2 separate regions of the Homo sapiens genome follow, and region 2 is linked to region 1. Evidence: fine-mapped expression QTL. A gene starts in region 1. The other region holds a variant in brackets. All regions are shown on one strand. Distances are between the middles of the regions. Region 1 holds the start of HBS1L (HBS1 like translational GTPase). Region 2 overlaps HBS1L (HBS1 like translational GTPase).

Region 1 (5,253 bases):
TTTAAAGGAGTGCGTTATTGACGACCTAAGGGCAAATTATATATTATCTGACAGAAGTAACGTTTTCTTATTCATTGTTCCTGTAGTACTTTGCTTATGTGGTCTATAACTCATTCACTTCATACCTCAGTGAGTTGTAGTTAAGCTTGTAATTGACAATTACAGTGGAGTGGAAGCTGCCATTTGTATTTTAATAACACAATTTTTTTGGGGGGGTGCAGAGTCTCACTCTGTCTCCAGGCTGGAGTGCAGTGGCACAATCTTAGCTCACTGCAACCTCTGCCTCCCGGGTTCAAGCGATTCTCCTGCCTCAGCCTCCCGAGTAGCTAGGACTATAGGCACGCGCCACCATGCCTAGCTAATTTTTGTATTTTTAGTAGACAGGGAGTTTCACCATGTTGGCCAGAATGGTCTTGATCTCTTGACCTCATGATCCGCCTGCTTCAGCCTCCCAAAGTGTTGGGATCACAGGAGTCAGCCACCGCGCCCGGCCAATAACACAATATTTTTAAGCACCTACTATGATCTGTGATAAATCCTCTTATACGGATACATTATTCACAGCTCGCGAGTTAGTGTCTCTATCTCCTTTTTACAAAGAAACAGGCTGCAAAATAAAAATTACCTAAGGGTGTAAAATAATAAAAACACTTAAGCCATGTAACATTAGCAACTATCTCTATTTTTCTGTAAACTTTTATTTTGGAGCCACATTAAACAACTATTTTTGTAGTCAAACACATTCAAATGCATGAATAAATTACGTTCCAAGCCACTTACAAATATAAACTAAATTTGGATTACTCTTATTTCTTTCTATTGTGCATAGCAAAAAGCTGAGGAAGCTTTTAATTATCTCTAGAACTCAACATTTGCCTTTGATGTGAAGTATCATCATTTCAAAAACACAAGCTAAAACTGAAGTGGTGTTCAGTATAATGAGGTTGGTTTCTTATATAGCATTATTAACTTTATGTTCTGAGAAATGAGGACATTTAATAGCAGGTTATAGATTCATGCATCAACAACATTCAGCATTACCACCTAAGGCCAGTGCTATGTCTAAAAAGCTATATTTAATACTCGCAATGTTACACACAATTATGTCTTCAATGAATGTTCAGTGAATCCTTCTTTATGATGCTGATAAATATCGTCTATATAGCTAAAATCGTTTACATAGCTAAGGGCAAATCGCTGTTTACTAGGGATAGTAATGCCGAACGGAGTGAATACATGAAGTCGTAAATTATATGAATGCAGGGTGACCTAATATAGCCAGGGTCTCAATTTAATAATATATACCCGTTTAAAAATAGCCTTATTTCCTTCTCTAAAGCTTGGACTCTTTTTTTTTTTGAGATAAGGTCTCACTCACTTTGTCGCCCGGGCTGGAATGGAGAGGCCCGATCTCAGCTCACTGCAGCCTCGACCGCCTGGGCTCAGGGGATCCTCCCACCTCAGCCTCTTCAGTAGCTGGGACTACAGGTCTGCACCACAGGGCCGGCTAGTGTTTGTATTTTTTGTAGAGACGGAGCCTCGCTATGTTGCTCAGGCTGGTCTCGAACACCTGAGTTCAAGCGATCCGCCCTCCTAGGCTTCCCAAAGTGCTGGGATTACAGGAAGGAGCCACCGCACCGGCCTGGGCTAAATCTGATTCCAAGTTTACACAAGTTTGTTGAATGCCCACTGTGTGCTTAATGAAAGATCAAAGTTTGATAAAACAAGGTCCCTGCTCTTACTGAGCGCATAGCTTTCTCAGATTATCAGGAACCAAATTTGGAAAATAATCCAGAACGCTGGCGTAGGTAGCTCAAGGTTCCCCGCTTGCAACATTTAGTCCAAACCAGTCAATTCTAGGCGGCGGATTTCCCCATCCCCCTCCGTCGCCCAACCTTTGGGTGGGGCCACTCCCAAACGCTCCCTCCCCTCGTCCCGCCATGCACAGCAGTGCGCATGCGCCCTCAGGGAGGCGGACAGTGACCCTGAGGCATTGCCGTCGCGCGGTGCACAGCTAAGACGTCGCGCTTGCGCAGGCGCTCGGCGCAGAGGCCTGCGGGAAGCCAAGATGGCGCATAGGGGTTCTCCAGGCTGCAGTTGGCGCCTTATCAGTATCTAAGCGGAGTGTTTTGGAAGGAGTTAAGGGGCTGTGGCAAACGCCCTCTCCGCCGTCATGGCCCGGCATCGGAATGTTCGAGGCTATAACTACGATGAAGGTAGGTGGCAGGGTCATGCCGGGACGTTCTTTTCCCGGCTACAGCTGGGATCCTAGCCCGTTGGCATCCACTTCAATCTGTGAGTTTCTCGTCAGTGTTGCCCTGTCGGGATTGGGAGAGCCCCAGTTGGGGAATATAACAGGCCTTCTAGTGCTTTCAAATGCCGTCGTTTTTAAGTCATGATTTCTGCCCTCTGGGGTTGATTTTATTTGGGGAGGGGGAGGTGCTGCATAGCGTCATATGGGTAGGATATTGGTGAGGTTGAGATCCGGTGATATTTAGGCACGTAAGCATTATCACCTCTTCCATTGTTTCCTCCCATGTTGGGCACTAACGTGCCTGCTTCTAGCTCCTCTCTCCCAGATCCCCTTTGAGAAATGTCCATGAAACGTTGCTTATTTGTAAAACACAGATTGACTTAATACATTCAACGGACGTGTACCTGTGTTAGATTTACATGGTAAACCTTTTGTGTATGTCCATACATACCTAGTGCAGAATCAGTTTGCGCTAATTTATTTTTCAACGAATTTCAAAGTGGAAACTTAGGAGACGGTAGAAAAGACACATGTTAAAAAGGCCCAAAGAATGAGTCGATCAGATGGATCTTGAAGTTTATACTTAGTTCTTGGCTGGTAATGCTTGATATAAATGTATTTTGAAATGTAAATAAACGGCAGTACTAGAGGAAAGAGTGTATAGGAAAGGACTTTTTGATATTAAAAAATGAAATAAAAATGTCTGTATGAATGTTCTGTAGGAGTTAACAGGAGTTAGAATTATTTTTAGGAGGAGCACATCCCTCTTCATGCAGTAGATAACTATAGGCATCACCAAGCATCACATAAACTAAAAATATAAACAAAAATGAACTAATGCAGGAGAAGAATAAAGAACTATGCTTTACGAAGTGCAGAACATGTAGTGCTTAATATGTTGGTGATTGTCATTGGCACCCCAGTAGATTATTATAGAACATCAGTATGCTTTAACTAGAGTGAGGGCAGCTAACACCCTGTTCTCCATTTGGAACCTGTGACCTCAGTCCGTCTAGAACATGTGAATTTTCTGGTGGTTACTTTAGAATGGAGGCCCTTTTAAATAAATATTGCAGTGGATGGTATTGCATGTGGACCATTGTCACCTAAGAAATGACTTTAGATTGAGAGAGATTTTTGCAAATATAAAGTACATGAATAGGCCTATTTATTATTCATTCATTTCTTTAATAGTTGTTTATCATTTCCTCAACCACCATTAAGTTAGTGCTTAGAGTACTGTTCTAAGCTTTGAGGACTGAAAGTAAGATATTTGAGGGTGGTCTAAAAGGAGAAGATTATACGAGTTACAGATTATTAGAGTATGAAAAATGCTACAAAAGGTACTGAGAAAACGCTATGGGAGGGATACACAGATGAGAACACTTAATTCAGAATGGATTGGGGGGAATTTAAGCAGGATTTCTACGTTAAGGAATGCTTCATGGAGGAGAGGTGGTTGGCCTCAGGGAGCACCTTGGCTTCTTGAGGTTAGGTTGTCATGTTGTCATGCTTCTTTGAAACAATTGGTGACATCATAACCAAGCTGTTCCTGTAACATTAAGGAGGTTCATCCCCTTTTCTTGTTTATAAAAGTTGTACTCATTAAGGTCCAGTTTATTTCTCTTCTTCCCAGTTAGGCTTTCTCTTGAATTCTCAGAATAATAATTTAAAAATTCTGTTAAGAAATATAACCTCATTAGAGAGAGTTTGTGTTCTAAAACCTACTGGTTCCGCTACTTAACTCCCACTTTGTTTTTCTCTGTAATTTATGTAATACTTTACATGACTGCCTCAGTCACTGATTTAAAAGTCTCAGGAAGGCAAAATCCATACTTTAAGTAGCTGGCACAATGTTCTTTACATGTGGTAAATATTTCATAATTTTGTTGATTGAGGAAACAAACTATGAAGATTGCAGGAAAGAATTCTCTTCATCTTTATATGTTGTGGCACTTTAGGGTCAACTTCAGCATTGACAAACTGACCTAGTAAAAAAGAGTTTTTTTTCTTTTTTTTTTTTTTTTAAGAGACAGGATCGCACTTTGTTGGTTGGCCAAGCTGGAGTGCGAGTGCAGTGGCATGATCATAGCTCTCTGTAACCTCCAACTCCTGGGCTCAAGCAATCCTCGTGCCTCAGCCTCCCGAGTAGCTAGGTCTACAGGCATGTGCCCCCATGCCCGGTTAATTTTTTATTTTAGTAGAGACAGCATCCGGCTGTGTTGCCCAAGCGAGATCCTCCCTCCTCGGCTTCCCAAAGTACTGGAATTACAGGTGTGAGCCACGATGCCTGGCCTATTGTTGTCTTCAATATCTAAAAATACTTTGTTTGTGAATGGCCCCTTGTTTATTTGCAAATAAATTTTTATTAACTTGGGATTGTGATCTAATAATTTATTTAATCATATATGTTTTTGCCCAATAGTAGCATTTATCTAATTTTTCTTTGCTGTAAGCATTTGGTCTCAGCCTTTGAGCATGCTGTTCCTGCTGCATGAATACCCTCAGAAACTAGCTAACTCTATCCTTTGGAATTGGTTTGGATATTATATTAATGGGGATCTTTCCCTAGCTGCCCCACTCCCGGTTCTAGTTTTGTCATTCATGTGTGTGTTCCCAAATTGCTCTGTGTTTCTCACATCAGGCACTTGTCACATGGTTTTGTAATTGCCCATTATCTTGTGTGTATTCCTTGTCAGATTTTAGGTGCAGTGATAACTGGAAATGTGTTCACTGTTATACCACAGTTGTCTCAACTACTCCCTGGCATGGTGTTAGTGTTTGTCAAATGAAATTTATGTAAATATATTTATGTTCTTTGTGGGTTTTTAGTTGTAATTAGTTTGATTCATTAATTTATAATAAAACAAATATTAATCTAGTGCCCCATATGTGCCAGGTAGTTGGCTAAACCAAGTCTTGCCCTGAAGAAGCTGATAGTCTCATGTAGTGAACAGGCGTAGCGCTCTGTAAATTGGGTAAGTGTGCTGGAGGGTAAC
Region 2 (5,253 bases), 64 kb after region 1:
ATCCCTTAATGATAAGGAAATATTCTGAGAAGTGAGTTGTTAGGCAGTTTCATCATTTGTGAACATATTTGAGTTTACTTACACAAATCTGGATGGTAACATCTTTTATACACCTAGGCTACATGGAACCTATAGTTCCAAGGCAACAAACATGTATAACATATTACTGTATTGAATACTGTAAGCAGTTGTGGCACAGTGGTAAATATTTGTGTATCTAAACTGATCTAAGCATATCATAGAAAAGGTACAGTAAAAATAGGGCATAAAAGATAAAAAATGGTACACCTGTATAGGGCACTTACCATGAATGGAGCTCGCAGGACTGGAAGTTGCTCTGGGTGATTCAGTGAGTGAATGTGAAGGCCTAGGACACGACTGTATACTTTACAAACACTGTACACTCAGGGGACACTACATTTATTTAAAAATATGTTTTTCTTTAATAGTAAATTAAGCTTAGCTTACTGTAGCTTTTTTTACTTTATAAACATTTAAATTTTTTTTAACTTTCTGACTCTCTTATAATAACACTTAGCTTAAAGCACAAACGTTGTACAGCTGTACGAAAATATTTTCTTTCTGTATAGTCTTATTCCATAAGCTTTTTTTAATATGTATTTTTTACTTTAAACTTTTTTTGGTGAAAAACAAAGACACAAATACGCACATTAGCCTAGGCCTACACAGGATCAGGATCATCAGAAGTGAAAAATAGTAAGTACATAAACCACTATCATAATTATCATTATAAAGTACTATACATAATTGCATATGCTATATTCTTTTATACAATTGGCAGCGCAGTAGATTTGTTTATACCAGTATCATCACAGATACATGAGTAATGCATGGTGCTATGACATTATGGCGACTATGACATCACCAGGCAATGGGAGTTTTTCAGCTCCATTATAATCTTATGGGACCACCATCACGTATGCGGTCCATGGTTGACCAAAACGTCATTATGCTGTGCATCACCGTAACTTTAAATTATTAAAGCAATGAAAATAGCACTGCATATATAGGACATTGATTTCTTTCATAATGGATGATTACTGGAAAACATGAAGAGTTAAAATAACTTGACTCTGTTACATGGCAAAAACATGACTTCAAGCAATTACCCGTTTTCTGGGATCTACTCATTAAAATATTAATTTTTTGAGACAGAGTCTCACTCTGTAGCCCAGGCTGGAGTGCAGTGGCACAGTCACCAGTCACTGCATCCACAACTTCCCGGGCTCAAGGGATCCTCTCACCCCAGCCTCCTGAGTAGCTGGGACTGCAGGCATGTGCCACCATGCCTGGCTAATTTTTTAGTTTTTTGTAAAGATGGGATCTCACTGTATTGCCCATGCTGGTCTTGAAATCCTGGGCTCAAGCAATCCCCACCTCAGCCTCCCAAAGTGTTGGGATTACAGGCATGAGCCACTGTGCCCAGCCAAAAAGAGAATTTTAACATGAACATTTGTTAACCAAAAAGGATATTGTATGAATACATTATAATATATTTGAAGATAAGAATTTTTTGATACTATTTTAGAAAGTTGACATGTAATTTTAGAATATTAATTCAAGATTCATGGACTGAATGTGATAAAAGATTGAAATAAAGTAATTATCCCTATTAATTGAGTACCTAATGTGGACCAGATACTGTATTAGGTATTACATGCATTCAGTTTAATATAATCTTTATAACAACTCTAGGAAGTGTATATTATCACCATTTTAAATTAGTATACAGTCATTCCTCCATGTGCATGGATTTTGCATTTACGGATTCAGTCAACTGTGGATTGGAATATTTGGGGGGGACAAATTCCACAAAGTTCCAAAAAGCAAAATTTGAATTTGCCACACACTGAGTACTGTGTTGAATCCATGCAAAGGAAGTGATGTGTAGGCATTGTATTAGGTATTACACATAATCTAGAGATAATTTAAAGTGTGTAAGAGGAAGTGTGTAGGCTATATGCAAAGGCTACCCTGTTTTGTATAAGGGACTTAAGCATTCATAGATTTTGGTATCCATGGGTGTTGGGAGGTCTGGAACCAATCCCTCACTGATACTTAGGGAAACTGTACTTCTCATTGCATTTACCAAAGAATACAATATAGTTTTGATTTCTC[C/ATTTCTCC]TTATATGTGTATATGTGTGTGTGTGTGTGTGTATGTCTGTGAGTCTTTTTCTTTTTTTTTTTCATTGATTACTTATTGAATACTGGCTGTGTAGCAAGCACTGGGGTAGCAGTGTGGGAATGCAATGCCTACAAAGCACTGATAGTTTAATGGGCGAGACAAACACCAGAAGCAGTTGTAGTAAAAAATACTTCTGAATTCTAGGACCTTAGAGTCCACAGTTATTATAAAGATCGTTTATTCCAGGCCAGGTGTGGAGGCTCACGCCTGTAATCCCAGCACTTTGGGAGGCTGAGGTGGGCAGATTGCTTCAACCCAGGAGTTCAAGACCAGCCTGGGCAACATGGCAAAACCCTGTCTCTACTAACAATACAAAAAATTAGCTGAGTGTGGTGGCAGGTGCCTGTAGCCTCACTTACTCAGGAAACTGAAGTGGGAGAATCACCTGAGCTCAGGAAGTTGAGGCTGCAGTGAGCCGTGAGGGAAGGGAGTGAGACCCTGCCTCAAAAAACAAAAATCATTTATTTCAAACTCTTTATGGAATTATGGTGGGAAAGGATTTTAGAGATCATCTAATTGAATTCCATTATGTAACAAAGAGATAAAGAGACTCAAAGATGTTAAGTAACTTGCCGAGTGTGCAAAATATTGCAGTGGGCTTTGGGGACACAAGGAAGCATACAAGGCATGCTGCCTCACCTCAGGGAAATCACAGTATAGAAGACAAGATGTGAAGTGGAAAGACTAACAGTTGCGCTGCAAGAACAGAGAAGATATACATTGTGGAGAGAGATCACTTTATTCTGCTTGATCATCAGAGGCTTCCTTGAGAATGCGTAGTAGGCATTTGGACTCCCAAAGACAAGAGCTATTGCCTAGAAATAATATTAATAGAGAAATTTCCCAGTAATTTTTTGGAGATAGTAATAGGAAGATTAGGTAGAACATTTGTGGCCTTAGGTATCTTAATACCAATTCAATGAATTTCACATTTTAACCTAAGAAGGTAAATATAATTTTACAGTTATTATGAAAACCTAATGAGAAAAAGATTTTCAATTACTGAGCCTAGGACTTGGAAGTTCTGGTCTGGATGTTTTATATAAACTATATTTACTCCCTAGGGTTTCTGTGAAGTAAGTAAGTTGGTAACACAGAGAGGTTAGACAACTTGCCTGAGGTGTGGAGAACAGTTATTGACTACAGGTATGCATGAAAGAGCCAATATTCAAATTGATTGCTTCAGTTTGTATGCTTATTCTAATCTAAGAATCCTTGATCAAAAGAGCTGGATCTCATTGAGGAAATTAATGTTCAGTTTTATAAAATATGAGGGATTGGAAGTGAAGATGGCACTTAAGAGTAGAGACAAAGCAGGAGTATTTAGGTACGAGTAAAAGGAAACAGGAATAGTGTAAATTATCCCACCAAAGTGTATGGTTAGTACTTCAATTTAAATCGTAATGTTCTGTTGTAAGAAAGTATCTGAGACATTCTTGACATATTTTATGACCATTTATTTTCCATTATGGTGAGGATTATATATTATATCTGAAATTCTTTAAAAACTGGAGAGCACAGAAGTAAAGGGTCATTGGGGAAGCAACAAAGAAACAAGCTGTTGTGGACTCTGTTCTGACCAGAAAGCAGGAGAACTTAATGATGTGGATGGAATATAAGAGGACCCTGGAGAGATAGTGATTATCATGTAACAGCCCGAGATAGCTAAAAAGGGGAATGCCAGGTGTAGTCTTTGTTTCCTGGATTTCAGAAAAGTGGATTTCTATGACAAACAGGTATGCATACAAAGCAAAAGCTGTAAAAGAGAAAATAAAAGTGTTCTTTAAAAAATGCCCCTACAGTGCATTGACAGAAATAATTGATAAGAATGAAAAGGAAGAACTTCTATGGTTGCACAAACTGTCTATTGCACATTTTAAAAGGCTGCATCCACATGACGCAAGTGGCATCAACACAAAAGAATAGTGGGAACCTGTAAAGTTAGTTTCAATAAGGCTAACAAAAACTGAGCTAAGCTGAGGTTAGCTTTCTTCTTTTGTGGGGTGTGTAATTTGAGTCTGAAAGGAATGTCTTTCTATCTGATTCACAAGATGGTCCACACAGGTTAGAAAACTTTGTTATACAAGGCTTTTTTTTCAATAGCTGTAGAGGATGAATATGCTGCTTTTTGATAATTCATATATTTGCTGTTTTTCTTCATTATAAACAGTACTCTGATGAATATCTTTGTAGATCTATACTTATTTCTCTGGGATAAATCCCTAGAGGTGGAATTGATGGGAAGTAAAATATGTGTAATTTTTAAGTTCTTGATACTTTTTGTGAAAATACCCCCTGGAAGGTGGTGCACCTACAGTCCCATGAGCAATATTTGAGGATGCGCTTCTCACCGTATCCTTGCCTACAGCAAATAATTTTGTCTTTCAAATCTTTAACAATGTGATTTGTAAAAATGGGAGAGAGGGAATATGTCAATGTGTTTTTATTTTACTTTTAAAAAATTTTAGTTTCTACTGAATTTGAATTTTTTTCATGTTGACCATTTATATTTCTTTAGCAAATAGCTTGCTTGTATCTTTTAAAGCTATGTCTTCTTGCTTTGTTTTGGGGTTTTTTATGTTTTTTTTTTTTGGTAAAGATTCTATAGAGATTATAACCTTTACTTTATATGTTACAAATGTTTGTCCCTCCCTGTCTACTGTTTTTTGTTTTTTTGAGACAGTCTTGTTCTGTCACCTAGGCTGGAGTGTAGTGGGGCGATCTCGACTCACTGCAACCTCTGCCTCTCAGGTTCTAGTGATCCTCATACCTTAGCCTCCCAAGTAGCTGGGATACAGGTGTGCACCACCACACCCGGCTAATTTTTGTATTTTTTGCAGAGATGGGGTTTCACCATATTGGCCAGGCTGGTCTCGAACTCCTGACCTCAGGTGATCTGCCTGCCTTGACCTCCCAAAGTGCTGGGATTATAGGCGTGAGCCACTGTGCCTGGTTGCTGTTTGTTTATGTTTTAATTTTGTTTATATTTTTCCTCCTTTGCTTATATATTTTAATTCTTATATAATCAAGTGTGGACTTTTTTATTGTTCTTT

Evidence for each region. PIP is the estimated chance that this variant, and not a neighbour inherited with it, causes the effect.
Region 2: its variant is the best candidate, but not a certain one, in a credible set for the expression of HBS1L in whole blood (INTERVAL, PIP 0.85).

Annotation. Positions count from the first base shown.
Region 1 is chr6:135,051,612-135,056,864 of GRCh38, reverse strand. HBS1L (HBS1 like translational GTPase) reads left to right here and starts at 2,043. Exons shown (of 18, transcript NM_006620.4): 1 at 2,043-2,216. The coding sequence starts at 2,174. LOC124901405 (a long non-coding RNA gene) reads right to left here and starts at 1,972. Exons shown (of 2, transcript XR_007059775.1): 1 at 1,379-1,972. RefSeq lists an enhancer at 1,835-1,884.
Region 2 is chr6:134,987,984-134,993,236 of GRCh38, reverse strand. The region is part of intron 8 of HBS1L (HBS1 like translational GTPase); the gene reads left to right. Among named protein-coding and RNA genes, the nearest start is that of MIR3662, 11 kb to the right of the region's middle. The variant C/ATTTCTCC (reference allele first, on the strand shown) is at 2,140.